Linked DNA regions of Homo sapiens. The protein of the gene in region 2 purifies or fractionates together with the protein of the main gene of each other region. This does not show direct contact. Each region holds a gene or a part of one and is shown on either strand. Other genes may lie near its edges. The genes, in order: TRAFD1, CDK20, NPEPPS, WRAP53, ALDH3B1, EDRF1 and NFXL1.

What was found.
Region 1: the proteins of CDK20 (region 2) and TRAFD1 purify together in Homo sapiens (affinity purification with mass spectrometry; one large-scale study listed by BioGRID and IntAct). This does not show direct contact.
Region 3: the proteins of CDK20 (region 2) and NPEPPS purify together in Homo sapiens (affinity purification with mass spectrometry, with the first as the bait; one study listed by BioGRID). This does not show direct contact.
Region 4: the proteins of CDK20 (region 2) and WRAP53 purify together in Homo sapiens (affinity purification with mass spectrometry; one large-scale study listed by BioGRID and IntAct). This does not show direct contact.
Region 5: the proteins of CDK20 (region 2) and ALDH3B1 purify together in Homo sapiens (affinity purification with mass spectrometry; one large-scale study listed by BioGRID and IntAct). This does not show direct contact.
Region 6: the proteins of CDK20 (region 2) and EDRF1 purify together in Homo sapiens (affinity purification with mass spectrometry; one large-scale study listed by BioGRID and IntAct). This does not show direct contact.
Region 7: the proteins of CDK20 (region 2) and NFXL1 purify together in Homo sapiens (affinity purification with mass spectrometry; one large-scale study listed by BioGRID and IntAct). This does not show direct contact.

The regions. Positions count from the first base shown.
Region 1 is NC_000012.12:112,131,850-112,136,249, reverse strand, and holds part of TRAFD1 (TRAF-type zinc finger domain-containing protein 1), read right to left. Parts: intron 1,513-4,400; coding exon 1,377-1,512; intron 1,238-1,376; coding exon 1,184-1,237; intron 1-1,183. UniProt on the Homo sapiens protein: Negative feedback regulator that controls excessive innate immune responses. Regulates both Toll-like receptor 4 (TLR4) and DDX58/RIG1-like helicases (RLH) pathways.
Region 2 is NC_000009.12:87,965,552-87,969,248, forward strand, and holds the end of CDK20 (cyclin-dependent kinase 20), read right to left. Parts: coding exon 3,643-3,697; intron 3,317-3,642; exon of another isoform or gene 3,019-3,316; intron 2,623-3,018; coding exon of another isoform or gene 2,544-2,622; intron 2,122-2,543; exon of another isoform or gene 2,109-2,121; coding exon 1,911-2,108; 3' UTR 890-1,910; downstream 1-889. UniProt on the Homo sapiens protein: Required for high-level Shh responses in the developing neural tube.
Region 3 is NC_000017.11:47,590,108-47,594,507, forward strand, and holds part of NPEPPS (puromycin-sensitive aminopeptidase), read left to right. Parts: intron 1-609; coding exon 610-774; intron 775-1,796; exon of another isoform or gene 1,797-1,848; coding exon 1,849-1,953; intron 1,954-2,377; coding exon 2,378-2,438; intron 2,439-4,400. UniProt on the Homo sapiens protein: Aminopeptidase with broad substrate specificity for several peptides. Involved in proteolytic events essential for cell growth and viability. May act as regulator of neuropeptide activity.
Region 4 is NC_000017.11:7,690,967-7,695,366, reverse strand, and holds part of WRAP53 (telomerase Cajal body protein 1), read right to left. Parts: intron 1-4,400. UniProt on the Homo sapiens protein: RNA chaperone that plays a key role in telomere maintenance and RNA localization to Cajal bodies. Specifically recognizes and binds the Cajal body box (CAB box) present in both small Cajal body RNAs (scaRNAs) and telomerase RNA template component (TERC).
Region 5 is NC_000011.10:68,012,941-68,017,340, reverse strand, and holds part of ALDH3B1 (aldehyde dehydrogenase family 3 member B1), read right to left. Parts: intron 2,045-4,400; 5' UTR 2,044-2,044; coding exon 1,882-2,043; intron 1-1,881. UniProt on the Homo sapiens protein: Oxidizes medium and long chain saturated and unsaturated fatty aldehydes generated in the plasma membrane into non-toxic fatty acids. May have a protective role against the cytotoxicity induced by lipid peroxidation.
Region 6 is NC_000010.11:125,739,723-125,744,122, reverse strand, and holds part of EDRF1 (erythroid differentiation-related factor 1), read right to left. Parts: intron 3,661-4,400; coding exon 3,472-3,660; intron 3,123-3,471; coding exon 2,922-3,122; intron 1,904-2,921; coding exon of another isoform or gene 1,884-1,903; exon of another isoform or gene 1,209-1,883; intron 1,066-1,208; coding exon 847-1,065; intron 1-846. UniProt on the Homo sapiens protein: Transcription factor involved in erythroid differentiation. Involved in transcriptional activation of the globin gene.
Region 7 is NC_000004.12:47,883,011-47,887,410, forward strand, and holds part of NFXL1 (NF-X1-type zinc finger protein NFXL1), read right to left. Parts: intron 2,990-4,400; coding exon 2,869-2,989; intron 2,648-2,868; coding exon 2,488-2,647; intron 1,428-2,487; coding exon 1,336-1,427; intron 1-1,335.

The DNA.
Region 1 (4,400 bases), on a different chromosome or scaffold from region 2:
AATCCTAGCACTTTGGGAGGCTGAGGCAGGAGGACCACTTGAGCCCAGGAGTTCAAGACCAACCTGTGCAACACAGCAATAGAGACAACACCTGTCTCTATTTTTTGGGTTTTTTTTTTTTGAGATGTAGTCTCACCCTGTCATCCAGGCTGGAGTGCAGTGGCGCGATCTCGGCTCACTGCAACCTCTGCCTTCCGGATTCAAGCGATTCTCGTGCCTCAGCCTCCCAAGTAGCACACACCTCCACGCCCAGCTAATTGTTGTATTTTTAACAGAGACAGGGTTTCACCATGTTGGCCAGGCTGGTCTCAAACTCTGACCTCAAGTGATCTGCCCACCTCTGCCTCTCAAAGTGCTGGGATTACAGGCATGAGCCACCATGCCCAGCCGACCCTGTCTGTATTTAAAAAAAAAAAAAAAAAAACCTTTGGCCAGTTTTATCTCAACTAGCGAGCAAATGATACTCTATTCTCTCTCACCAAATGCTGAGGAATTTCTTAGGTTAAATAGCATGTTATCCAGGTGTTCAAGATTTTAAAATGAAGCCAGATGTGGTGGCTCACGCCTGTAATCCCAGCACTTTGGGAGGCTGAAGACAGGCAGATCACAAGGTCAGGCCAACATGGTGAAATCCCGTCTCTACTAATAATTAGCTGGGAGTGGTGGTGGGCGCCTATAATCCCAGCTACTCAGGAGGCCGAGGCAGGAGAATTGCTTGAACCTGGGAGGCAGAGGTTGCAGTAAGCCGAGATCACACCACTGCACTCCAGCCTGGGCAACAGAACAAGACTCCGTCTCAAAAAACAAACAAACAAAAAAGAATTTTAAATGAAATGACAGCTTGTAAGGCAGGCTGTGTGCTAAAGAGGTTATCCCATACTGGCAACTCTAGGGCTGGCTTCATATTCAGTGAGGCTGCCAATAACCAAACCCCAACAGAAATAATAGACTCAGTTCCAAAGGGAGATACTTCGCGAGTCTCAACATACACAAGTGAGTTCCAACAGCCAGGTAGCCGAATCTGGCAGCAGTTACATAGTCAAGGCCTCAAACAGGCTTTGAGAAACAGTATGCATGTGAGCTCACGGAGAACTAACACTCAACCAGACTGGCTTCCTGCTCTGCATGTGGGTCTGTAATCTCAGCAGGACTGGGCCCACGGTAACTCACTCCATGGACTAACCTCATGCTTCTTTAACAGCCTCTTCTCCAACTTCTTGTTACATTTGCAGGTCACCTAGAGTAAGAAGTGAGAATCAGTAAATTGGCTTTGGGACAATATGCTCATTTGCTATTGCACAATAGCAAACAGAATACATTTACGAACAACAGCAAGTATAACACATGTATAAACATTTGAGTACTTGGTGGCTCACCTGACAGTGTTCTGCAGCCATGTGAGTCTCCATGTCAGATTTGGGAAATGGTTCCTTACAGGTAGGACACATACCAATGTTCCTTTGACAGTGGATCTCATGGATGGTAAAGTTAAACACAGGAATTTCTTTTTTGCTACGGAAATAGACCAAAGAAAAAGGCAAGCATTACTGACTAATCTATGCCTTTTCTTGCACAGTGGCATCACATGGAAATCTGTCCTGTCCAATCTTTAGTCTCCATTATTTATCTTTAGTGAATACCTAGCCTACAAACTCATGACTATTACCATTCCTGCTTTTCAAGAACTAAATCCTGGCCAGGCGCGGTGGCTCATGCCTGTAATCTCAGCACTTTGGGAAGCCGAGGCAGGCGGATCACCTGAGGTCAGGCGTTCGAGACCAACCTGGCCAACATGGTGAAACCCCATCTCTACTAAAAATATAAAAATTAGCCAGGCGTGATGGCGGGCACCTGTAATCCCAGCTACTCGGGAGGCTGAGGCAGGAGAATCGCTTGAACCCAGGAGGCAGAGGTTGCTATAAAAAAAAAAAAAAAAAACTGGCCGGGCGCCGTGGCTCACGCCTGTAATCCCAGCACTTTGAGAGGCTGAGGCGGGCAGATCACCTGAGGTCAGGAGTTCGAGATCAGCCTGGCCAACATGGTGAAACCCCGTCTCTACTAAAAATACAAAATTAGCCAGGTGTGGCGGCACATGCCTGTAATCTCAGCTACTCAGGAGGCTGAGGCAGGAGAATCGCTTGAACCCGGGAGGCGGAAGATGCAGTGAGCCTAGATCGTGCCATTGCACTCCAGCCTGGGCAACAAGAGCAAAACTCTGTCTCAAAAAAAAAAAAAAAAAAAAAAAAAATTAAATCCTTTCCAGGTGCAGTAACGCCAGCACATTGGGAGGCTGAGGCAAGCAGATCACTTGAAGTTAGGAGTTCAAGACCAGCCTAGCCAACATGGTGAAACCCCGCTTCTACCAAAAATATAAAAAATTAACCAGGTGTGGTGGCGGGTACCTGTAATCCCAATTACTCGGGAGGCTGAGGCAGGAGAATCACTTGAACCCGGGAGGCAGAGGTTGCAGAAAGCTGAGATCATGCCACTGCACTCCAGCCTCGGGGATAGCAAGATTCCGTATCAAAAAAAAAAAAAAAAAGAACTAAATCCTGAAGGCTCTTCTGTGCAACATTCTGAGTTACCGGTGCTATGCACTACTACATCTAAAAGCTCAGCCTTACTTTCTCAAAGTCAGAGCTGATCACAACATGAAGTCAGATGCCAAAAAGAGTGGAGCTAGGCTATTCCAAAACCATCCATGTCCCAAAGCAGAGTGATACGCTCCAGGATTATTTTAAAACAGAAAACAAACCAAAACAACAACAAAAACAAGTGAAAAAACACCCTACCACTGATTTTCTCTCACTTTTAAGTAGTTTAATTTCATTGGATTTTATTCCATGAAAAGTCAAACCAAAAAGAGAAGACTCCAGCTTTTGGACAGTCAAAGGGGAAGGGGAAATTGTCTCCTGTATGCCTCACATGCCTTTCGAAGCAGGCTGGATGCTTCCTGACTACAGGAACATGCTCTCTGGCTGGGTTGGTAGAAACTTCACTGTAAAGCTGTACAAAAATGAAATCCTGAACCCTTTCCTCCACCAGTCTGGTCTCTCCACTTCATTTTTGCCTTTCTCACTTAGTTTAGTGGTTCAAAGATCATATCTAAGCTATACAAATTAAGGAGGTAAAGTGATAATGTTACATGAAAGAGTAAGACCATTTAAACATGAAAAGATTATACATGTACTCGAACTAAAGGTACATTCTATTCAAAGGCCTTACTTTTACTTATTTGGATAGGACCATTGTAAAATTCCAATTTCACCAGCTAAAAACTACATTAAAGAAGGTACGTATAACAATAATTCAGAAAAATAAAATACTGAACAGGATCAATACAGATAGTCATAAAACACATTATTTAATACCATATTTTGCCTCTGAAGCTGAATACTAGAAGAACTGTCTCCCATACTAAATTATAAATAGCTTATTTCTCTTTTAATAACCTTTAATATTCAGACATTGTCTAAGAAACATTTTGAAGTAGGATAAATGATGTGCCTCCAGCTATAGTCATTCTTCCAAACTGAAAGACCAAGACACCAAGGAAGTGCAAATTCATTTTCATCCAGTGGTGGAATTATCAAGCTAGGGACCCCAAGGCAGCTCTCAAAGCAGCACTGGAAGGTGACAGAACAATCAACTGTGAGAGATGGGAAGAAAACTCAAATGGATAAAGAGGAAAATTACTGACAGATTTAACTTCCCATATTTCTCTCAAATTTTTAGCTTTCTAAGGAAACTACTCATTTTGAATTAATTTAGTTAAAATAATACATCCCAACTTTTTAAAGATGTTGTGAAATGAATACTTTAATACATTACTGGTGGTAGTATAAACTGCCTAAAAACAGTCTGAAAATTCATTTCTAGGACCATAAAATTATATACTCTGTAACACAATAATCCTACTCTTGGGATTATGTATGAATATTTTCATTACAGTATCATAGAATGGTAAAAAATGAAAGTCATTAAAAATACCTAAGCAAGAAAGGAATAGCTAAGTTACATATAGTATACCAACAAAGTGAAAGAAGAAATGTTATATTGTGATTGTAAATCATGTATGTACAAATGCCATGAAAATTAAAGCCAGTAATTACTGCTTAGGGTGTAGAAAACCTGGGTTCCTTTTTCATAATATTGGCAATAATTTTTATTTTAATGGTAAATATGGAGACACTAAATGTCTAGCATTTACTTTACAAGGCTGTTCAGGATAACTTGTTGACATACTACATACACAAGGCCCCTAAAACTTTAGAATTAAAACAAAAAATATTAAGGACCACACCATCATAATATGAAGCAACAAGAATCAAAAGCAGCTGTCAAGTAAGACCACAAAGCATTTACTATTGCACATATTCACCTCTTAGGAAATGCTGAAA
Region 2 (3,697 bases):
AGGTTTAAGCGATTCTCCTGCCTCAGTCTCCCAAGTAGCTGGGATTACAGGCATGCACCATCACACCCGGCTAATTTTTGTATTTTTATTAGAGATGGGATTTCACCATGGTGGCCAGGGTGGTCTCGAACTCCCAACCTCGGGTGATCTGCCCACTTTGGCCTCCCAAAGTGTTGGGATTACAGGCATGAGCCACTGCACCCGGCCTCTGTTATTTGATATCAAATAACTACACCAGATTTTTGGTTTGTGTATGCACGATAAATCATTTTTTCTCCTTTTACTTGCAAATGTTATATACATTTTAGAGTTCTCTTTGAAGTTCTCTTAGAAGCTTACAGTCTGCAGAAGATGTGGCTGGAGAAATAAACAGAGGCCATATCATGAAAACATCAGACTTTCCTGAAAGCCAAGAACGAGGGTTGAGTATGTTTTCTCTCTCCACTAAGTGCTTGAAGGCCAGCATCTGTAGCAGTGTTAGTCACCCTGAGTGCTCACAGAAGAGTTTATCCACATGAAGCATAAAATAAACATTTTAAAAATAAAGGGAGCCTGGGGCTGGGCATGGTGGCTCACGCCTACAATCCCAGCACTTTGAGAGGCCCGGGCAGGCAGATCACGAGGTCAGGAGATCAAGACCATCCTGGCTAACATGGTGAAACCCTGTCTTGAGTAAAAATACAAAAATTAGCCAGGTGTGGTGGCACGCGCCTGTAGTCCCAGCTACTCGGGAAGCTGAGGCAGGAGAATCACTTGAACCCAGGAGGCGGAGGTTGCAGTAAGCCGAGATTGTGCCACTGCACTCCAGCCTGGGCAACAGAGCAAGACTCCATCAAAAAATAAATAAAATAAAAATAAAGGATGGCTAAGAATAAGTTTCTCTAGTCTGTTTTTATCCTTGAACCACAATCATACTCTTTATTATTATACAAACTTTTAAATATTGGTATCTGATACCGTAAGTCCTTCCATCATTTCCTCTTCTGCATCTGGTTCCACTTCCTTCCATGTATCTTTTATAATCACCTTATCAAATTATAATAAGGAAAAAGCACTAGCTGGGATTATATTGGGATTTATTAAATTTATAAATTAATTCCAGGAACGCTTGTTTCCTTAAATACACAGCTGCTTCTGGCTCACGCTCATCCTGAGGGAGTAGATGTTGGTAAACCAGCCTCATGTGCAGAGGGTCTCCTGCTGGATCCCCAACTGGAGCCATCCCTGGGCCTAGACTTCTGTCTCCCTCACTTCTAAATGAGTGCTCAGTGATGTGAAGTACACAGGAGTCCCTCAGGGCAAAAGTGGCTATGCCTGGTGCTACCCTCCCCATGACCCCAAAAACGAGAGCCATGAGACAATGCCACCTTAGCCATTTCCCTTGAGAGAAATGAAGGAGGAACAGACATAAGGCAGAGCCACCTGAGGTTTTTAGAATCTATATCTCACATACTGAACTAGTGTTTAATGGCTCTGAGAATAAAACCAAACCAAATCTTCCTTCCACTTGAGTTTCCAACATAAGGACACCTTACTCTCTGCACTTCTCCTTGACCAGGAGGCAGCACTCGGGGAAGCAGCACCAAGGCAGGCATCGTCATTCTGCATATGCAGGCCTTGACTGGCAGCAGAGCTCACTGTCCTGATGGGTACGTCAGTAGCACACAGAAGGTAAGGCTCACCGAGCACAGGCCATGAATCTCCTCTGCTCGACTGGATGTTCTCATACTCTTGGCTGGGAACATGACCTCTGCCTCGAGACCAACCCTCGCAAGGGCTAAGGGGCAGGGTGTGGTGTGGGCCCACTGTGGCCATGGGGAGGCCTTGGAGGGTGAAGCCAGGCAGGTGGCAGAGGAACAGGTGGACTGAGTGGTCCTGAGGAGCAGGCAGACGGGACCAGGGCCAACTTCTCACCCCTCCAGGATGAAGGGCCGAATCAGCTCTGGGTTCAACAGCGACTCCTCAAGAGGCCGGTCCACGTGGAAGTCATGGATGTGGGGGGGCCCTGGATGGGCCTTGGGGGCAGGTCCCCCTAGACGCTGAGGAATCGGCAGCTCAGATGGATGGGCAGGCAGGGGAGCTGTGAAGAAGTACTGATGGAGGAGAGCCTGAGGGTGGCAAGTAAGGAACAGCAGAAGGAAACTAGTCACCTCCCTGTCCCCAGCCTCAAGCAGATGTTCCTTCATCTATGCATTCAGCTGACTCAGTGTGTCTGGGTGTTTTCTGAGTGTCTACTATGTCTGAAGCACTATTCCAGAAGCTGGGAACATAGCCGTTAATAAAACAGACAAAAGCTCTGTTTTTCTGACATAAGTGAGGGTGGGGGGTAATAAACAAGATGAAGTAAAATACACAGTATGTCAGATAATGATTAGTGCAGTGGAAGAGAGAAAGCAAGACAGAGGAATGAGGAATCCTGGAGAGAGGTTGCAGATCTGAAGAGTCATGAGGGAAGGCCATCTGAGAAGTGACATTTAAGCCAAGACTTGAGACATAAGCAAGTGGGACATGAGGCTCCAGGCCAGGGACAAAAGTGTACTGACCCCTGGGGCTGGAGAGGAGTGAGCACAGGGCACAACAGCAGGCAGCGTCATGAGGTGATGGCACCCAAGCATACGACATCTGTGGGTCACAAAAAGGACCCTGGCTTTTCCTCTGAGATGGAGCCACAGGAGGGCCCTGGCAGAGAAGGAATGTGTCCTGTTCTACTTGGATAAAGTTACTCTGTCTGCCAGGTGGAGAAGAGATTAAATGGGATGAGGGGAGACCCAGATTCTGGGAGGCAACCCAAGAGATAAGGGTCACACGGCTTGGGTACACTGTGGACACAGAGCCCACAGGAGCTGCTGACAGTGGAGACCAAGAGGGCGTATGTAAACACACGCGGCTGGTGCTGAGTGCAGGGAGGGGACAGGGACCCCTGAGAGACACCCTGACACCTGTCAGCCCATGCTCCTGTGGTCATCGTCCTCCCAGGCCTACCAGCCATAACCAGCCTTCCTGGGTCCTCTCTTCCAGGCCTCTGCCCACCATTTCTCTCTTCAGCGAACACCTCCTCAAACATCTCATGCTTAAACCTGCCCTCCACCAGGAAGCTTTGCTTGACCCCAAAGTCGGCCTTGCCTCTCTCCTGGGGCTCCCACAGCTGGAGAACATGACCTCTTGTGACCTTTTGGACCTGGAGCTACCTCACCACCAGGAGTGCCCCGCGGAGGTAGGACTGATTGTTTACCATCTGTGCAGGGCCCAGGACAATCCCTGCATGTGCCAGATGTGCAGAAAATACTTGCTAATGGAATAAAGGAATGAGTCCCCAGTGACTCTCTTACTGTATCTGCCACAGGGTCAGGGGCAGCCCAGAAACCTGCACTCCCGGACACGCGCTCTCCTGAGAGTTGGGCATGCCCCTCGTATGGGCCACCCTCAGGGGAAGTCTGGGGATGTCCAGTGGGGTCTACTCATGAGAGGCACACCTGCTCCAAGGCCCCTGTCCCCTGGGTTCCAGATGTCTGGTGCTGGTCCATGCCAATCACAGGTTCTGAGGGTCGCTGATGTGATGGGGTCACATGGCTACCAAGTACAGAGTACCAGGGTGATGGGGAGGGGAGCTGAAGGAGCAGAGACTACAGCCTCTCCCCCTACCTTGGAAGCTGCGATGCGCTGGTGAGGAGGGTAGAGAAGGAATTGACCCAGCAGA
Region 3 (4,400 bases), on a different chromosome or scaffold from region 2:
ATTGCTTGAGCCCAGGAGTTCAAGGCTGCAGTAAGCTACGATGGTGCCCCTGCCACTCCAGCCTGGGCAACAGAATGAGACCCTGTCTGGGTTTGCGGGAGAAGTTATTTACAATGTTTTGAAAATATCCTTTAGCCCAGGCATGGTGGCTCACACCTGTAATCTTAGCACTTTGGGAGGCCGAGGCAGGTGGATCACTTGAGTTCAGAAGTTCCAGACCAGCCTGGCCAACATGGCAAAACCCCCTCTCTACTAAAAATACAAAAATTAGGCAGGCATAGTGATACATGTCTGTAATCCCAGCTACTGGTGAACACTCCAGCCTGGTGACAAAACAAGACTTTGTCTCAAAAAAAAAAAAAAGAAAAGAAAGGAAAAGAAAATGACCCTCAGATATAATTCTCATATCACCAGTTGGCCTTTCTTGACATCTCTTTTAGTCTTCTCTCTTTTTCAGAAATGTGAGTTCTTTGCCAAATGTTTTGAACTGAATTTTAGGTCATTAAATTGTGAGTTTGGGAATATAGTGGAAGGGACATGTGAGTGTTTTAGATTAGTAGAATGACAATCATTTCATTTTCTTTAAGTATTTTCATCTTTTGTTTTTAGGAATGGTGGACTCATCTTTGGTTAAATGAAGGTTTTGCATCCTGGATTGAATATCTGTGTGTAGACCACTGCTTCCCAGAGTATGATATTTGGACTCAGTTTGTTTCTGCTGATTACACCCGTGCCCAGGAGCTTGACGCCTTAGATAACAGCCATCCTATTGAAGTGAGCCATACTTTCTAACCATTAGCCTATGACTGCTCTCATTTACAATGAAATACGTAATTTGTTACATAGATACTTTGGACTTTGAAAATAAGAGAAAATAGCATGGGTGATTTTACTGGTTCATATTTCTAGTCTTGAAAAGCTAGTAAGTCTAAGTTCTAATTAACATTTCTTTTTAAGGTAGGCAGTAAAAAAAAATTGGTCTGGCCAGGCGCAGTGGCTTATGCCTGTAATCCTAGCATTTTGGGAGGCTGAGGCAGGTGGATCACCTGAGGTCGGGAGTTTGAGACCAGCCTGACCAATATGGAGAAACCCCGTCTTTACTAAAAATACAAAATTAGCTGGGCACGGTGGCGCATGCCTGTAATCCCAGCTACTCGGGAGGCTGAGGCAGGAGAATCACTTGAACCTGGGAGGCAGAGGTTGCGGTGAGCCGAGATCGTGCCATTGCACTCCAGCCTGGGCAACAAGAGCAAAAAACTCTGCCAAAAAAAAAGAAAAAGAATAGTATGGGAGAAGTCATACCTATTGGGTAACACTATGGTTCCATTGTTTATGTCAAGGAAAATTCTGGACATATTTTATTGTCAGGGTCTGTTTTGTGAATACTTTAATTCTCTTGACTTAGCCTATCCCTACTTCAGTTTATATATATAAATTTTGTATCTAAAGAACTAGAGTTATAATGCTACTTCAACATATTTAATTAGGCTCCCATATAATTGTAATTCATTACAATTAGTGCAAGAAATCTAATGTTCTTCACCTCCATATCTTCCTCATCACTCCTCTGCAACTACCCCAAAAATAAACAGAACCATAGTGGCTTCTTTCCCAGCAGAACAAAGCCAGGACTGGAACCCAGGCTCTAAGGGATGACAGGAATCATGTTCTATTCAACTTTATTATTATTAGTTACTACATTTTTTTGAGGACCATCGTTATACATTATGAGTGAGTTAAAGGCAGAAAAATGTAAGTTAGAAGGGTTTTCCTAGAAAGCGTTTTATGTAATTCAGTATTACAGGCTATCTGCTTCCTGTCATAACCCTGAATCACACTGTCTGCCAGGTCAGTGTGGGCCATCCATCTGAGGTTGATGAGATATTTGATGCTATATCATATAGCAAAGGTGCATCTGTCATCCGAATGCTGCATGACTACATTGGGGATAAGGTAAAAAAAAACTTTAAATATTTCATTCTTTTATGGTGAAATCATAAGAGTTTTGCATGAAAAAAAGTCTCACTTTATTTGGATTAAGTTCCCAAATAGTTTCTGGCTTGTCATTTTTTTTTAATGACCAAAAAGAATGAGAATTCAATTATTTGAAGTTGACTACTCTGGTCTCTTAGATGAGTGATGTGCAGGTGTGTTTGGGAGTGGAAATGGGAGGCTGTTACAAAACTTAAGAGCAAGAATAGAAGGCATAGAGTACGCATTATTAAATAAAAGGCAGTAGGCATCAGAAGGATATATGTGTTTCAGTGTATCTGATACTTGAGTATTTGAGTAAATTTGTTTTTGATTACTGATATACAAATATACTATAAATTCTGAGATCTGACTTCCCTGGATTTTAAAAATTGTGTTTTCTCAGGACTTTAAGAAAGGAATGAACATGTATTTAACCAAGTTCCAACAAAAGAATGCTGCCACAGGTAATCTCTAATAGCTTGAGATAGAAATGGAGAGAAAGTATTGTCACTCTATCCAGGCTGGGACATTTTATTTTTGTTCTGAATACTTAAGGTCAGGATCCATGTAATAAATAAATTAGCCTTATTTGAAGCTGTGTTCAGGTTGAATATCTCTAATCTCAAAATCTGAAATTTGAAATGCTCCAGAATCTGAAACTTTTTCTTTCCTTTCTTTCTTTTTTTTAATTAAAGTTCTAGGGTGCATGTGCACAATGTGCAGGTTTGTTACGTCAGTATACATGTGCGGGCCATGTTGGTTTGCTGCACCCATTAACTCGTCATTTACATTAGGTATTTCTCCTAATGCTATCCCTCCCCCAGCCCCCTACCCCATGACAGGCCCTGGTGTGTGATGTTCCCCGCCCTGTGTTCAAGTGTTCTCATTGTTCAATTCCCACCCAAAATCTGAAACTTTTTGAGTGCCAACATGATGCTCAAAGGAAATGCTCATTGGAACATTTTAGATTTTGGATATTCCAATTATAGATGCTCAGCTAGTAAGTATAATGCAAATATTCCAAAATCCAAAAGAAATATGAAATTCAAAACATTTCTGGTCCCAAGCATTTTGGATAAGGGATACTCAACCTGCAGTAAGTCATAGGGTCAACATGAATCAGGACTCGTTATCCCTTTGGTCATCCTCCAGCATTCTGCTTTCCATAACTGAGTATTTTGCCAACTTAAAGAGTCTGGGCCGGGTGTGGTGGCTCACGCCTGTAATCCTAGCACTTTGGGAGGCCAGGATGTGCGGACTGATTGAGCCCAGTTCAAGACCAGCTTGCAACATAGCGAGACCCCACCTCTACAAAAAATACAAAAATATTAGCCGGGTGTGGTGGTATGTGCCTGTAGTCCCAGCTACTCAGGAGGCTGAAGTGGGAAGGGTCACTTGAGCCCAGGAGTTTGAGGTTACAGTGAGCAATCATGGCACCACTGCACTCCAGCCTGGGCAACAGAACAAGATCCTGTCTGAAAAAAATAAAAAATAAAGGGAATACAGTCATGTGTTGCTTAACAACAGGGATATGTTCTGAGAAATATGTTGTCAGGCAATTTCATCAATATGTGAACATCATAGAATGTACTTACAGAAACCTACACAGTATGTCCTAGGCTATGTACACCTAGCCTACATGGTATATACCCTGTTGCTGCTAGGCTACAAAATACCTGTACAGCATGTTACTGTACTGAATACCATAGGCAATTATAACACAATGGTATTTGTATACCTGAACATTTCTAAATATAGAAAAGGTACAGTAAAAATATGATATTAAAGATGCTCCACCAGCTGGCTGATATGCCTATAATCCCAGCACTTTGGGAGGCTGGGGCAGGTGGACTGCTTGAGTCCAGGAGTTTGAGACCAGCCTGGGCACCATGCCAAAACCTCGCTTCTATAAAAAGTACAAAAATTAGCTGGGTGTGGTGGCATGTGCCTGTAGTCCCAGCTACTTGGGAGGCTGAGGTAGGAGGATCACTTGAGCCTGGGAGGTCAAAGCTGCAGTGAGCTGTGATTGGGCCACTGCACTCCAGCCTGGGCAACAGCGAAACGCGGTCTCAAAAGAAAATAAGGTGCTACACCTGAATGCAGCTTATAGGACAACTTATAGAGGTTGTTCTAGTTGAGTGAGTGGTGAGTGAATATGAAGGCCTAAGACATTACTATACACTACTATAGATATTATAAATACTTTACACTTAGGCTACACTGAATTTATAAAAATAATTTTTCTTTCTTGAATAATAAATTAACCTTAGCTTACTGTAACATTTTAAATTTACTTTTTAATTTTTTTAACTTTTTGATTCTTTTCAATTCTTTTTTTTTTTTTTTGAGACAGAGTTTCGCTCTTGTTGCCCAGGCTGGAGTGCAATGGTGCAGTCTTGGCTCACCACAACCTCCGCCTCCCGGGT
Region 4 (4,400 bases), on a different chromosome or scaffold from region 2:
AGAAAACCCGAGAAACTATATTGGGAAGAAGACTCAGTACACACAAGTATATGGAAATACCCAAATACACCCTTCCCCAATTTTCTGACCTATACAAATTTTATCTATTTAAGGCCGGGTGCAGTGGCTCACGCCTGTAATCCCAGCACTTTGAGAGGCCAAGGCGGGCGGATCACGAGGTCAGGAGATCGAGACCATCCTGGCTAACATGGTGAAACCCCGACTGTACTAAAAATACAAAAAATTAGCCTGGCGTGGTGGCAGTGGGTGCGTGTAGTCCCAGCTACTCGAGAGGCTGAGGCAGGAGAATGGCGTGAACCCGGGAGGCGGAGCTTGCAGTGAGCTGAGATCGCGCCACTGCACTCCAGCCTGGGGGACACAGCAAGACTCCATCTCAAAAAAAAAAAGTTATCTATTTCAAATGCTAAGCTTGTAGACACTAAAAATGAAAATACCTAATGAGAGAGGTTGCGATAGAACTGGTACACTAGCAGGAAAAAAAAAAAAAAAAGCACAAAAAGGTTTTGGTTGTTTGTTTTGAGACAGAGTCTCACTCTGTCGCCCAGGCTAGAGTACAATGGTGCAATCAAAGGTCATGGCAGCCTCAACCTCGCAGGCTCAAGCGATCCTCCCACCTCAGCCTCCCAAGTAGCTGGGACCATAGGCCCAACTTTTTTGATAGAGACAGGATCTGGCTGTGTTACCAAGGCTGGTCTCAAACTCCTGGGCTCAAGCATTCCTCCCACCTTGGTCTCCCAAAGTGCTGGGATTATAGGCATGAGCCACCACACCAGCCACAAAAATCTTTTGAAAACAAACTGACTGGCCAGGAGCAGTGGCTCACGCCTGTAATCCCAGCACTTTAGGAGGCGGAAATGGGTGGATCACTTGAGGTCGGGAGTTTGAGACCAGCCTGGCCAACTTGGCGAAACCCCATCTCTACTAAAAATACAAAAATTAGCCGGGTGCGGTGGTGCGTGCCTGTAATCCCAGCTACTCAGGAAGCTGAGGCAGGAGAATCGCTTGAACCGGGAAACAGAGGTTGCAGTGAGGCAAGATCACACCACTGCTCTCCAGCCTGGGCCACAGAGCGAGACTCTGTCTCAAAAAAAAAAAAAAAAAAAGAAAGAAAAAAAGAAAACAAATTGACTATCTGTATTGCAAGATATATTTTTTAAAATGTTTTAATATTATAATCATTAATATCATAATCACGACCATGCCTGGCTAACTTTGTATCTTTTTTAGTAGAGACGGGGTTTCACCATATTGGCCAGGCTGGTCTCGAACTCCTGACCTTAGGTGATCCACCCGCCTCGGCCTCCCAAAGTGTCGGGATTACAGGCGTGAGCCACCAGGCCTGACCCTGCTCTGCTATTTCTACCATGACAATTTATTCAGCTTCATCAAAAACTTATTTACAGTCCAGTTCCTTACCCACTGTAGATTCTAGTCCACCATGGCATGCACACTCTTGAAGACACTCTCAGGATACCCTTGTCTTTCTCTCCTGGTAAACCTCAACCATACCATCCTCCTATTCTTGGCTTGCACACAACTGATACCAGTGACTACTAGTGTTTACCGAACACTTACTATATGCTAGGTGCTGTTTTAAGTACTTTTTTTTAATTTTATTATTTTTTTTTGAGACTAAGTCTTGCTCTCTTGCCCAGGCTGGAGTGCAGTGGTGCGATCAGCTCACTGCAACCTTCGCCTCCTGGATTCAAGCAATTCTCCTGCCTCAAACCTCCCAAGTAGCTGGGATTACAGGCGCCCGCCACTAAGCCCGGCTAATTTTTGTATTTTTAGTAAAGACAGGGTTTCACTATGTTGGCCAGGTCGGTCTTGAATTCCTGACCTCAGGCGATCCACCTGCCTCGGCCCCCCAAAGTGCTGGGATTATAGGCGTGAGCCACCGCACCCGGCCTTAAGTGCTTTAATTCATTACTGATTATTTTAATTCTCACAACTCTGTGAGGCAGGTGCTATTATAATCATCCCCATTTTACAAACAGAGAAACTATAGTCATTTAACTTGCCAGGAAAGATGCACAGTCACACTAACTGGTCTCATTTCAAATTAATGGCAACAGACCTCTAGCGGGTACCGAGCAAAGAGCAACACAACTGCCACATGCCTTGGTGGGTCTGATTTTTTGAAACTCCGTCTCAAAAAAAAGAAAAAAAAGAAAGAGTGCTGATGGAGGAGGAGAAGGCCCAGCAGAGCCCTGAGTGCCTGAGTGCTCCAGCGCAGGGAGGTGGAGACAGTGACTCATGCTGCTAAGAGATGCAGTGAGGCGAATTTAGAGAATGACCCAAGAGGGGCTGGGCGCGGTGGCTCATGCTTGTAATCCCAGCACTTTGGGAGGCCGAGGCAGGAGGATCACGAGGTCAGGAGATCGAGACCATGGTGAAACCCCGTCTCTACTAAAAATACAAAAAATTAGCCAGGCGTGGTGGCGGGCGCCTGTAGTCCCAGCTACTCGGGAGAGGCTGAGGCAGGAGAATGGCGTGATCCCGGGAGGCAGAGCTTGCAGTGAGCTGAGATGGCGCCACTGCACTCCAGCTGGGTGACAGAGCGAGACTCTGTCTCAAAAAAAAAAAAAAAAAAAAAAAAGGAGAATGACCCAAGAGGACATTAGTGACCTTGACAAGAGCACTTTCAGGAAGCGATGGAGGCAGAACCTGATTAGGATGGGTGGGAGAAAACTATAGCCAATCTTTTTTTTTTTTTTTTTTTTTTGAGACGGAGTCTTACACTGTTGCCTGGACTGGAGTGCAGTGGTGCAATCCTGGCTCACTGCAACCTCCATCTCCTTGGTTCAAGTAATTCTCCTGCCTCAGACTCCAGAGTAGCTGGGATTACAGGCGCCCGCCACCACGCCCAGCTAATTTTTTGTATTTTTAATAGAGATGGGGTTTCATCATGTTGGCCAGGCTGGTCTCGAACTCCTGACCTCAGGTGATCCACCTGCCTCAGCCTCCCAAAGTGCTGGGATTACAGGAGTCAGCCACCGCACCCAGCCCCAACTAATTTTTGTATTTGAGTAGAGACAGGGTTTTACCATGTTGGCCAGGCTGGTCTAAAACTCTTCACCTCAGGTGATCCACCCATCTCAGCCTCCCAAAGTGTTGGGATTACAGGCGTGAGCCACCGTGCCTGGCCCTGGATTTCACTCTTGCCCACCCATAAACCATTCACTCTTCTGTTTTAAAACTCTCTTGGCCGGGCGCAGTGGCTCATGCCTGTAATCCCAGCACTTTGGGAGGCCAAGGTGGGCAGATCACAAGGTCAGGAGTTCGAGACCAGCCTGGCCAATATGATGAACCCCCCATCTCTACTAAAAAAATACAAAAAAATTAGCCGGGTGTGGTGGCACATGCCTGTAATCCCAGCTACTCGGAAGGTTGAGGCAGGAGAATCACTTAAACCTGGGAGGCGGAGGTTGCGGTGAGCTGAGATGGTGCCACTGCACTCCAGCCTGGACAACAGAGCAAGACTCTGTCTCAAACAAACAAACAAAAAAAACCTCTCTCATGGCCTGGCATGGTGGCTCACGCCTGTAATCCTAGCACTTTGGAAGGCTGAGGCAGGTGGATCACCTGAGGTCAGGAGTTTGAGACCAGCCAGGCCAACGTGGCAAAACCTGTCTCTACTAAAAATACAAAAATTAAGCCAGGCGCGGTGGCTCATGCCTATAATCCCAGCACTTTGGGAGGCCGAGACCGGCGGATCAAATGTCAGGAGTACGAGACCATCCTGGCCAATATGGTAAAACCCCGTCTCTATTTAAAAAAATACAAAAATTAGCTGGGCATGGTGGCGGGTGCCTGTAATCCCAGCTACTCGGGAGGCTGAGGCAGGAGAATCGCTTGAATCCAGGAGGCAGAGGTTGCAGTGAGCCGAGATCACGCCATTGCACTCCAGCCTGGGCGACAGAGCAAGACTCGTCTCAAAAAAAAAAAAAAAACACCTCTCTCATGACTTCCCAAATAAACTCCAAATGCCTTACCCATAAGAACCAACACGACGTGGCTGCTCTTCTCTGTCCTCACCCCTCTGTCCCCCTCACTTGCCTCAGTCTGGCTATACCAGCATTCTGGGTTTTTTGTTTTGTGTTTGTTTGTTTGTTTGTTTGTTTGTTTGTTTGTTTTGGGATGGAGTCTCACTCTGTCACCCAGGCTGGAGTGCAGTGACATGATCTTGGCTCACTGCAACCTCCATCTCCTGGGTTCAAATGATTCTTCTGCTTCAGCCTCTCAAGTAGCTGGGATTACAGGCACCCACCATCACACCCAGCTAATTTTTGTATTTTTGTAGAGATGAGGTTTTGCCATGTTGGCCAGGCTGGTCTCAAACTCTTGACCTCAGGTGATCTGCCCACCTCAGCCTCCCA
Region 5 (4,400 bases), on a different chromosome or scaffold from region 2:
TGAGCCCCAAGAGGGAGGAAGACGCCACGCCCACTGGCACCTCCTAGCCACTGAGGCTGGGGGAAGGTGCCTTCCACACGGACTTTCCCACAGCCTGTGCTCTGGCCCCATGAGCCTGGTGGCCTGCCCGCCACACCTCCTAGGTCACCTGGGACCTGACTTTGGGAGACTGGGCTATTTTGAGCCAGGTTCAAACTCTGGCTCTGCTCTTCCTGGCTGCATGCCCTTGGGCAAGAACACACTCTCTCTGAGCCTCTTCTGGGGGCCACTGGGTGTGGTTGCCCAACCAGATTCACCAAAGGGTTAACTGAGAGGGTGCACGTGACGCTGGGCAGATGCTGCCTGCTGAGGGTGGGGACAGGGGGGTGACCAGGTCCAGAGGGAGGGACCAGGTTGAATGTTCTGGGCTACTGCTGCCTTTGTAGGGCCCCGCTCCTGCAGCTGGGATGGGAAGGCAGGAGGTGGAATCAGAGCCGAAGGGAGAAAAGGGACCAGACAGACGTCAGGTCAAGTCTCATGAAGGCCGGCAGGCGGCCGGTGGCAGAAGCTCAGTGGTGGCGGGGGAGTCAGTCCCCAGGGAGCCCAATGGGCTGGGGGAAGGTCTGAACACTACAGCCTTCAAGGCAAAGGGAGGAGATATTTTGTCCAGAGAATAGGAGCCGGGGGCAGCCCCTGGGGCAGATGTGCTGAGGCAGGGGCAGGTGGTGTCCTGAGGCAGGGGCAGGTGTCCTGAGGCAGGGGCAGGCAGGTGCATGGGCCCTGATGGGTGAGGGGTTGGGGGAAGTGTGTTTCTTGGGGTTCTGCCTTGGCTGCCACTGGGATTGGGAGGGGCTGAGGCCCCAAGCCTTCAGGGTCTAGACAGAGGCCATGATGCCTGCTGTACCCAGAGAGAAGGCCAAGGCCTCACGGCCTCCGAGGCCCTACATAGTGTGGCCCATACCCCAGACCTCATCTTTGCTGTTTCTTCCTCTCCCACCCCCGACAGCTATGCTGGCCTCCTTGCTGCTCCTCAAGCAGAAACACCCAGCACCTCCTGCCTCAGGGCCTTTGCACGTGCTGTGCCCGCTGCCATCTCCCCAGCATCCATGGGGAGCCTCCCCTCCATCTTCACGTCTCTGCTCTAAAGCCCCCTTCTCAGAGAAACCTTCCCTGACCCCCACATATACAACAGCACCCTGATCCTGGCCCCCTCTCTCCCCTTCACCCTGGGTGTGTCTCCAGGGCACATATTTCAACCCAATATGCTGTGTAATTATTATCTTTATTATTATTTTTGAGATGGAGTCTCACTGTGTTGCCCAAGCTGGAGTGCAGTGGTGTGACCTTGGCTCACTGCAACCTCCACCTCCCAGGTTCAAGCGATTCTCATGCCTCAGCCTCCTGAGTAGCTGGGATTACAGGTGCCCACCACCACATCCAGCTAATTTTTGTATTGTTAGTAGAGACGGGGTTTCGCCATGTTGGCCAGGATGGTCTTGAACTCCTGGCCTCAAGCGATCCGCCCACCTCGGCCTCCCAAAGTGCTGGGACTACAGGTGTGAGCCACCATGCCCGGCCTTGCTGTGCAATTATTTATTTGCTGTTTTATTGTCTCCGATAGAAGGTCATCTTCGTAGGCATGGGAACTGTGTTTTATTCTCTGCTATATCCCCAGAGCCTAGAACAGTACCTGGCACATAGTAGGTGCTCAGCAAATAGTTGCTGCATGAATACAGAAATAAGTGACTGGATGAATGTGCAAGGGTGGCTCTGGCCTAGGGGAGGAGCTGCTTTTAGCCCCGCTTCATGGAGGGCGCAGGTGTCTTCATCCCCTGCTGTCCCAGCTGCCCTCCATGCCCCCCTGCCCCAGTGCACCCTCTCATACCCCCAACCCCAGCCCACCTTGTGCAGGTCCTGGGCCAGTGCGTCGTGCAGAAGCTGCTTGTTTTCTTGCAGGAAGCGGCCCAGGCCTTGGAGCTGCGCAGCCCGGAACTCAGCTGGCCGCGTGCGCCCCGCGTGGAAGGCCTCCCGCAGTCGCCGCAGCGTGTCCCCAAGGGGGTCCATCCTGCCAGATGGGGTGGCATGAACTGGGTGGCCAGGGCTGCCCCTCCTTCATGGGCACCACCCAGCCGCCCCAGGGTCTGGGCACCCCTGACCTGCCTGCACCCACAGGGGCTTGCAGACACCTCTACCTTATACACACACAGGGACCCACTCAGATGACCCCACAGGGACTGAGGCTGCCTGCAACCCCTTTCACCCAACAGTGAGCACTCCCAGACACACATGAAGACCCTCGCACCACTCCCCTCTGCCATGGACCTGGAGGCGGCTGCAGGACTGGGTGTGGGCTTGGGGACAGCTGCTCCACCACAGCCCCCGAGGGTGAGCAGGCAGGCAGAGCGCCATGCTTCTTCCTGCCGCACAGAAATTAACCCCAAGCCATGGCCTCTGCCCTGCCCTGATGCCCCTCCTGGAGGCGGGGCAGCCTCACCCCTGCCAGTCTGAATGGTGTAAGCAGGAGCTTGATGAGTAGAGGGGGTGACTCACTGCCACCATGGCCACCACCTTGGAGCACTCCAGACACAGAATTCTCCGTCTTCCTCTGTCCCCAGCCTGGGGGCACTGCCCAGGGAGGCCAGGCCAGTGGGCAATAGCCTCTTCTCCCTGTGCCTCAGCTTCCTCAGGAAGAGGGGGAGAACACCTCGGGCCTCCTGGAGGCCCTGCTGCCCACCCTGCCGGGGCTGTGGTGCTGGGAGGCAGAAACAGCTGTGGGGGAGAGGATCAGGGCGGGGGAGAGGGCGTTCCTGCCTCCGTGCTGGTGCCAGCCAGAGCTGGCAGGCAGGGTAGGGGCCTAGACATTCCCCCGAGCCCTGCCTGTTTACTTGAAGTTCATCGGAGGAGCACTCTGACGCACTCGTTCCTCGGCCTGGTGCCAAGGACCCGTGGTGACCCTTTCCTCCTTCCCTCTCCGAGTCCCTTTCCTCCAGATCTCAGCTTGGCTGATGCTTCCTCCAGGCAGCCCACCCAGATTATGCCCTCATCCACTGTCACAGTGGCCCCTTGACTCTGCTCCCCAGCGTTCTGAGTTGTGCCATGTGATAAATGTCTGGTTACACTCTACCCACCTCCCAACCCTGTCCACATCTCCCTTATTTCCCCCTCATTAGACTGGGAGGCAGGCCCCTCTGTGCCTACTTATTTGAGACCTAGTGCTTGAAGCCTCTCATGTTACCGGTGTAATGATGGCACCTGCCAGCTAATGATGAGACCACACAGTCGGTTCTGAGCCCAGGGCCCAGCATCGGTGAGCGCAAGGCTGTGGGTGATTGTTAAGTGGCCACCTTGAGGGCGGGACCTGCTCCGGTCTGCAGGATGGCCCTGCTGGACCAGTGTGCTACTGAGAGCCTGGTCAGGAGCCCCAGGCCAGCCCTCAGCTGGAGTGATTGTGGGGCCAGGCTGAACCCACCATCTTCCTGCTCTGATTGGGAGAAGCTGGGCAGTGGCCCGCACACAGGACAGGCACCATGGTCCCCATAGGGGATGGCTCGTCACGGGAGCAGGACTGAGACCCAGGAGCCAAGAACGAGCCTCTCGAGCCACCATCAGGCCTGTCTCCGGGCTCTGCCTCTTACTGGTTGTGGGACCTTGGGCAAATCACTCACCTTCTCTGCCTCGGTTTCCTCATCTGTGAAATGGGGATGCTAATGGCACCTGGTGTCATTGTGAGGATTAAATGACATCACGCTGCATAAAACATTTGCTGTTGTGCCCACAGAAAGTACTCGACAAAGGTCAGCTCTGGGTGTTTTGCTAAGTAGCCTGCAAATATTTATCTCCCTCAACTCCGCACTCTCCTGGGTCCTTCTCCATTCTACTCTCACCTTCAGACTTCTGCCAGTGGTCAAAGGCAAACCACGCCTGTGCCTCTCTCACCCTTTGTAAGAATCTCTGCAGAAACCACAAAAATGCAAGGCACGTAACGTGAATGGTGGACTGTGGGCCGGGAGCTCTGTGGGGGATGGAGTTCTGCAGGGAACATTCCAGCAACCCTCCTAGCAACGCTGAAACCAACTCACCAGGGCCACAGGACACATCTCTCCCACAGGGCAACCAGCCCTGGCATTGCCCCTACGGGTCACTCACTCTGGACTGAGGCCCCCAGGGAGTGCCCAGGGCAGGACCCTGGCAAGCGGAGAAGCCAAGGCCGCCTTCTGCCTGAGATTGGGGGGATCCTGGGCCTGTTATCTCCCGAGGGTGCTGGGCAGCCATTGTGGACACACAGAATAGGGAACTCCTGAATCAGGCACTGGGCTGGGGTCCCCCAAGCCCACCCCCGCGGCACTCATCCCACAGTGTGAGGTTGTAAGGAGTGTGATCCCCATGCCTGCCCTCGCTCATTTCACCACCACGGCCGCCCA
Region 6 (4,400 bases), on a different chromosome or scaffold from region 2:
GGCTTTACATTCTTATCTATTCTCACGGCTTCAACTATTACCTTTATGTGAATGGTTCTCAGTCTGTCTCACTAGCCCTACAGCTCTTAGCACACTTCAAATTGACTACAAATTATACCTTTCACATACATGTTCCATAGTGAACTCAAATTCAACATGGGCCCAAATGGTTTACCATCTCACATCTTACTTACACCATCCCACATCTTACTACGCCATCCCACATCTTACTTACCCACTATCCCACATCTTCCTCACACAGGCCTCTTGCTCCCTCTAAACGTACACTTGCACCCTTTGAGATCCCTGGCTTCTTCCTCACACCGCCTCCTTGGTCTGGAGTGCCCTCCTTTCCTCACATTTGCCGGCTGATGCTCTACACATCCTGCATCACCCTGCTCAACAACACTTTCCCAAAAGCCTTCTAACTTATAACCTCCATAAATGTCTTATTTCCCCAGTCTCCCATTATACTTCGTCGGTACTCATCCACAGCATTTTGAGGCTTTGTGTTCCTATCTAGCTTCCCAACATGAAGAGAGAACCATATTTTAGCCAGTTACATATCCAACATAGAGCCTGGCACATGGCTGGATGTCCCATTTGCTTCTGAATTGATCAGATGGAGTGAGTACAAAAGTAAGAATGAAGAACATTGAAATAATTCATTCCAAGGGAAAATCATGTGTTCCTAATTCTATTTCTTAAGAATAATAAGAGGTTCTCTAATAGAGCACCTCTTTATGATATAAAATCAAGTGCCACAGTTCTTTGCTTGACTCATACAAAATTAGCATAATTTTCTGAGAGAACAAGCAATAGAGAGGAATCTAAAGAGATACTCACCTAGTCTCTCACTCTGTAATGCAGCAGCCTGATTCATGTAAAACACACCAATTTCATTTCTAATGTTACCCATTCTCTTTAATACTTGTACATAGTGTTCTGGATTTTGGCTTTTCAAGTCACTAAACTGCAAGATTTCATTAGCAGCCTCATAACATTTACAACTAACAGAGAGTTGACTTTCTAAGTCTGTAGACAAATCAGTTGCCCATGCAAATCCTGAAAAGAAAAAAGGGATACATCAATGCGAATCATGTGATTCCTTCTTCCTCAGTATCCAAATGAACCTGAGATTCTAAATTCTAAGTAATAAAAAATGCAATATAGTGTAAGTATACCAAGATTCAATCAATACAACAATATTTAAGTTTCATAATAAAGATCTATTTATTTATAAAATTATATTTCTTGGGATATTAATGTTGGATAAAAATATTTTCCTGCCTATGAATATCAAACAATTTCTGTGACCCAGGTTTTCCCAGGTACACTTGTTTATTAGAATGGACCTAAAGTTGTCCACTAATACAAAGTAAAGTTGCTATTTTTAACTAATGGAAATAGTTCTTGAAATAATGTCCCAATATTAACTTTAAGTCACTGAAGAGGCTGCTACAGAAGCCCTCGAAGATTAAAAATGCCATCTAGTGGGGACTAGAGTAAAAAGAATATTTAACTGAAATTGCTATGATGGGAGTAGTAAAAATACACCAAGGACTTTCCTACTACATTAAAACATGATTATTTGAGAAAGACGGAGAGAGGGGAAGAAAGGGCAAAACTATTACAAAATAACACATTTTTCCCTCTCCCCCAGTATACTCCTCTAGCTATGAATTGTCTAAAACTCTGGGAGGCAAACATCAAGTAATATTCAGTATAACAATTTAAGAGCATAATAAAACAACCCCATGAGACATTACAGAAGCACCTTCAGAAGACTCATCTTTTACTTCATTCACTGTGTTAATGGCAGCGTGGTTACACACTGTGCTGAGGTAAGAGGGAGGGATATCGCTGCTGCGGATCAGATTATTCTACTTCCCAGTTTTAAAGCCTGACAATTCCAAACAGAGTGACATATTAAGCAAGACAGGTGGCTATGAACTAACTTTAAAAACAATGATCACTTTATTTCAGCCCCAAGGAATCATTCAGAAGGTTAATTAACCTCCTTCACCAACTGTTATACCTTTCAAAAGGAAACCTATGGCTTTGTTAGCTGACTACAAGTGTTACCTAGAAGAACCTCATGAAAAGAAGAGTGTAAAAAGCTGACACAAGGCTGGGTGCAGTGGCTCGTGCCTGTAATCCCAGCACTTTGGGAGGCCAAGGTGGGAGGATCGCTTGAGTTGAGGAGTTTGAGACCAGTCTGGGGCAACGTGGTGAAACCCTGTCTCTAACAAAAATACAAAAATTAGCTAGGTGTGGTGGCGCATGTACTAGTCCCAGCTACTTGGGAGACTGAGATGGGAGGATCACTTGAACCCAGGAGGTGGAGGTTGCAGTGAGCCAAGACTGCCCCACTGCACTCCAGCCTGTGTGGCAGAGCGAGACTGTGTCTCAAAAAAATAAATAAATAAAATAAAATAAAAAGTTGACACAACTGTCTTCATATCTTACTTTATATTTAGTTCTAGTTATATAAACAGTAATTATAAAATACTTAAAAACCATTTTATACAAATACACAAGATCATGCTTAATCTTAAAATTAGGAAATGAATAAAACAGCAGGCCAGGCGTGGTGGCTCACACCTGTAATCCCAGCACCTTGGGAGGCCAAGGTGGGCTAGCCGGGCATGGTGGCGCATGCCTGTAATTCCAGCTACTTGGGAGGCTGAGGCAGGAGAATTGCTTGAACCCGGGAGGCGGAGGTTTCAGTGAGCCAAGATTGCACCATTGCACTCCAGCTTGGGCAACAAGAGCGAAACTCCGTCTCAAAAAATAAATAAATAAATACAGAGCAAATATCAAAACTCTAATATTTCTACCCCTTTTCTGAATACTCAAATAAGCATGAGCTAGACTGCACAGTCCCACTGTGAACCACGTGGTCCAAGCCTGTGGCACACCTTGGCAACTGGACTCTCTGTGAAGGCTATGCAGGATCTCCTGGTCTTCTTTTGTTTGGTAATGAAACTCTTCAAGGTGTGCTGCTCTATTATTTGCATTCTGGGCCAGCATTAGTTGGATATCACCACAAAGTGTCAAATATTGAGAGAGAAACAACAGCACTTCGGAAAGCATATTGGTGCAGAGGCAGCAATAAGTATCTGTTTAGAAAGGGAGGGAAGAAGAAAAAACACAAATGCAGAAAAAAATTAATGATCATAGGAAATATGAAGAAACTGTGTTACCAGCTGAACGCTTTGTAGCACTGTATCTATTCTGTTTATTTTAGGTCCAACAATACATATTACGGCTTCATGTAGTTCAAAGCAAAGAGATGTTAAACCACTGAGCAGAAACTAAAATAGAAGGTAACACACACAGGATTGGAAACAGTCATTTTAAAATAAAGATTTACTAGAAAAATAGGAGTAAACTTCCACTGTGATTCAGATGCCTTCTCTGTTCTCTCTTCCCAGTGCCTATTAAACATATTCATTTATAGTGGCTTACCATGGCTTTGCAAAGCTAATTTAATGTATCGTAATGCTCTTCCGTATTTCTGAAGACTCATGGCAGCATCGGACAAAACATAATAGGCCTTTGATGACTTGAGAATCAGCTGAAGTTTCATTTTATGTTGCCAAGAGCCAGGGATCATTCCAGATTGACTGGAATAATTGCCCTTCTGAAGGGAGCCCACTGTGACATGGAGAGAAAAAAAAAGACAGCACATTTCATTTGACTGTAAGTCTCATGCACAAAAAATATTTTCTGTTTCTTGATGGAAACACTCTAGACTTAGGTGACAAGACTGGTAAATACTATGCTTTACTGCTTAAATACACTGGAGTGAAATGGCCGTGTTAAAAGACTCTCACTTGGGAGTTCTAAGGCCTTCTGCTTCCCTGACATCGGCAACTCTGTCATTCTCTTCCAGTGTCACTGACATAGCTAACCTCATGAGTGACACCTGTCTCCTTTTTCCAGTCTATGTGTCAACCTGTCAAAGTTTACCTTCCTAAAGCACAGCTTAGATCAGCGTGAAAGCCTGTCCTCAAACATGAAAACGGCTTCTCCCCACTTAGCTAGTTGCATGTTTCTCAGTCTCACTTCCTACTTGTCCATCCTACTACCCATCAGCCAATGTTAAGTTACTGCTTGTCACCTATAAACATGCCTGTTTTTCCTATCTCCCATCTTAGTTTACTGTTTCCTCTACAAGGAATACTCTTTATTTAAAGTCCAGCCCATCGCTACCTTCTTTACTCAACAAATGATCATTTTTCTGCCAAGTACTGTGCCAGGCACTGGAAACTGTGACATGAAGTTATATGGCCTCTATCCTTGATAACATAAACCACAACAAAATATGTTAAGTGTAATTAACAGACAAAGAACAAAATACTGTGGAAAATTTTGCTCTGCAAATAACAAAAACA
Region 7 (4,400 bases), on a different chromosome or scaffold from region 2:
CTTTTAATCTTTCACCACGATGTATTAGTGAACTGTGTGGGCTTTTCACAGATGCCCTTTATCAGGTTAAGAAAATTATCTTTTCTTCCACGTTTTTTGAGTGTTTTTATCAAGAAAGTGTGTCAGATTCTGTCAAATGCTGTGCTACATCTTGAACCTGGAAAGAGAAGGTTGCAGTGAGCCGACATTGAACCACTGCACTCTAGCCTGGGTGACGGAGACTCCGTCTCAAAGAAAAAAAAACAAAAAAAAACAGACTAAGGAACTCAATGGTAATTAGGTACTTATGACCTAATTACTCAGGTAATTATGACAACATTTTCGTGCCTATGAATTATAATATCAATGTCTCTTCTGTTTCTCTCAAGGAAAAATTTTAGGCCACTAATAATTCTAACTTAGAGATATTAGCAACAACTTGGTTCCTCATGATTATAACTTAAGTCCTCAGTAAAAGAATAGTCTCAAATAACTGAATACCTACATGAAAAACCTCTCTGCTAACTACACAGCCCACCTCCATTAAATCTACAGACTAAAATTACCCTATTTGTGCATATATCTCCTAACAACACTTTGCCTCCCAACTTGACTGTGTGACCAATACACAAAAATATACATGCTATTTCAACTGGGAGGAATGTTGTGGAAATGAAAGCTTTTAGAATTAAAAAACAAAAACAATCCTCTCTTTAAAAGACCAATACACCAGAAATACCAATGTTTAATTTGGCACCTCAGTTGTAGACAACAGCCCCTTTTCTAACTTTATGTTGCTTCTCAGCATTCTGTGCTTTTTCCCCTATACTCCATAACCTCTGCTGGAAGTATAAAAAATTCCAGGATTCCGTATTACTGTAGGTTCAGCTCCTTAGAGCTCAGTCCCAGTCATTCACTGGCCCATCCAGGAAACTACTTCCTCTCATTTCCAAGGCTTCCTTTAAATATTCCCCAAGTTTGCCTTATCTAAAACCTGGCTTTCTTCTGTCTTCAGGGAGCTTACAATCCAGTATGGGAATCATCGGGAAAAGTAACAAATGATGTTCCTTGGATTTGTTTTTGTAATTGCATGCACTCGCTATGGAAAGCTAAGAAGGGCATCAAACTCCAACTGGGGGTAAAGACTCAAAAAAAGATATCTATAGTAGGTTTATATGCAAGTATGACAAACATGTTTGAAAAGAATGAAGGTTAAGACAGACACACTAGTTGATAGGCTAGGCCTGAAATAATAATGAACTGAACTAAGAAAAAAGGGAGATTGACTTCAGATACCCTTTAAGCTATGTCAAAAGTTTTTTGTTTTTTTTTTTTAATTGAAATTCTAATACTTACATAGGAATAGGAACTTGACATGGAGGACACGGTAATGCAGTCTGAATAAATGCTGGCTCAGAAGGCTGTTCCCAAGGGCCTGTAGGCTGGTGCTACAAATAAAATACATAAGAATTTTAAGTCAGAGGGATTAAATCATATGGCCATTTTAAGAATCTAAGAAAATAGTTCCATGTATCCTCTGCTCAAGCAGGTTGAAATTTTTTCAAATAATCAATAAATTGTGCTTACTGAAATATTTCATTTTATCTGTATTAAATGAAATTGTTCCTCTCCACAGACATTTGATATTAATAACTGAGACAGAATCCAGTTTATAAATGGTAGAACAAAGGCAGTGTAGCCTCCTTTACTTCCAATAAGGAAATGAGAAAAACAATTGGAAACTCCAACATCTAGCAATTGAATATAATCTCCATCATTTTACTCACTGTTGTTCCTCAGCACCTAAAAAAAAGCTTGATATTTAGTAAGGGCTCAATAAATGTTCATGAGGCTGGGCTGGACGTGGTGCCTCACACCTGTAATCCCAGCACTTTGGGAGGCGGAGGCGGGCAGATCACTTGAGGTCAGGAGTTCGAGACCAGCCTGATCAACAAGCTGAAACCCCATCTCTACTAAAACTACAAAAATTAGCTGGGCATGGTAGCAGGCACCTATAATCCCAGCTACTCAGGAGGCTAAGGCACGAGAGTCACTGAACCCGGGAGGTGGAGGTTGCAGTGACCCAGATCACACCACTGCACTCCAGCCTGGGCAACAGAGTGAGACTCCGTCTCAAAAAAAAAAAAAATTAAATAACTAAAAATAAATAAATATTAAATAAAATATTAAAAAGTGAATAAATCTTTAAAATAAGATTATAGGAGATATCTATAACCCTAAACCACAATATATGAAGGAGGACTGCCAAATTCACCTGTATCATGATCATAATGTAACTATCACACTGTATTTGCAAACAATGGTTTCACTCCTTTCCTACACTGTGAGTTGCTTAAAACAAAATCAAGTCTTGATTACCTTGTACCCTGCTCCAAGCACAGTGCTTCCCAATAAGTGCTTAATCATTGCTCATTGAAAAACTAAGTAAAAGCAAGAAAGTACAACCCACAGCAATGCACTATTTCTCTAATAGTATTATTCCCTTACCCTGCCAGTCTGCTTTATTAATGCTTGATCATGACACGGAGCAGGACACAAGTGACCACATTTCTCCAAAACTTTTTGGCAAGGTTGATGACATGGTGGACAAGAACCAAAGTGACAGCGATGTTTTTCTTGACTTGTATGATGACAAGTTGGTGGTCGACTAAATCATAAAGTACAATTTTCAAAAATTACTTTTAGTCATTGAATAATTACATCTAAAGGACAATTATCTATTTACATATCTTCTGATTCCATATAGAATGAGTATACTGTGAATATTAATATTTTAAAACACTAAAGCAAAATTAAATTATTAAAAGCCAATATGAATTTAAATTTGTACAACATCAGATGGAAGCTTGTGCAAAGCTTCAAACTCACCTGCATTGCTCCTTGCACTTGGGTGGTCTTGTGGTACGTTCTCGGCCACAGGGCACTGTCACCTTTGTATTGCCACAATTACACTTCACATCTACGGTTTCTGGGCAGGGATAGCAACTGCCTGAAAAAAAAGTCTGACAATTAAAAAGTTTCCTTAACTACCCAAATGCCTATTAATGGTAAAATACATAAATTTAGTATATTCACACAATGGGATACTCTACAACAAGAATGAAGAAACTACAACAACATGAATGAATCTTACCACAAAACATTGAGCCAGACACAAGGAGTACATAGTGCATGATTCCATTTATATAAAGTAAACAAGAAAAAATGTACTGTTCAAAATCAGAGTGATAGCTATGAAGGATGCAAGGAAGGTGTTGAAAATTTTGGTCATGTTCTGTTTAATGATGTAAGTTTTGGTTACCTGGCTATGTTCAGTTTGTAAAAATTCAACAAGCTGTATACTTTTTATTTGTAATACTTTTCTCTTTTTTTTTTTGTAACAGGGTCTCAACCTGTTGCTCAAGCTGAGTGCTGTTGCATGATCACAGCTCAGTGCAGCCTCAACTTTCTGGGCTCAAGCAATCCTCCCACGTCAGCCTTCCAAGTAGCTGGGACTACAGACACACACCACCATGCCCAGCTAATTTTTGATTATTTATAGAGATGGAGGGGTCTCACTATGTCATCCAGGCTGGTCTCAAACTCCTGGACTCAAGCAATCTTCCCACCTCAGCTTCCCAAATGCTGGGTGTACAGGCGTGAGCCACTGCACCCAGCCTCTGATTTATAACACTTTTTTCTCTGTACACTGGTACCTCATAAAGTTTTAGACATTTCTCTAAAATGTGCTAAAACTTCTGTTCTAAATAACAAATTTAACACATTACTCATTCAAAACTAAAACAAGCAAAAATGGATTTAAGTCTTTGGAAAATTTAACATTAACAATAATATCGTTGGCCTACTTTCATACATCTATCCAAGTACACAATTTTTAGATGAATTCCCAATAACTTCTTTCTCATGACCTGATATTGGTTAGTAGCAAGCACAGTCAATTTTCCATTAATTGTGCTTTGTGAAAGACTAAGTACTAAGCCACCATTTTAGGATATAATCCCAAATATTTCTCTTCTAAACATAAAAAAAAATGTTATTTTGGTTTCAGCTTTTTACGCTCTTTTGTTATGGGTTGGCAAAAATATAAAAAAACAAAATCAAAGAAATCTTTAAAGCAGGCTATAAAGTTCGCTCCAAGAGGTTCTGTCATCATCTTAAGGGCTTTCTTCCACTCTAGTTTTCCCAGTAAGGAACTCTATCAGAAATGAAATAATAAAGGAAGAAGAGTTTTCAATGAAGAAATGAATATCTTAAAGAGACTGTTGCCTAGGTGTCAGGACCAAGCAAAACATGGACCGGGAGTTAACCTGATAAAAAAAAGATTAAAGATGGACAATATCCTGGCTTAAGTGCCTCTAGAAGTTCAAAATAGTTCCCTAAAACAAACACAAATTAAGAAT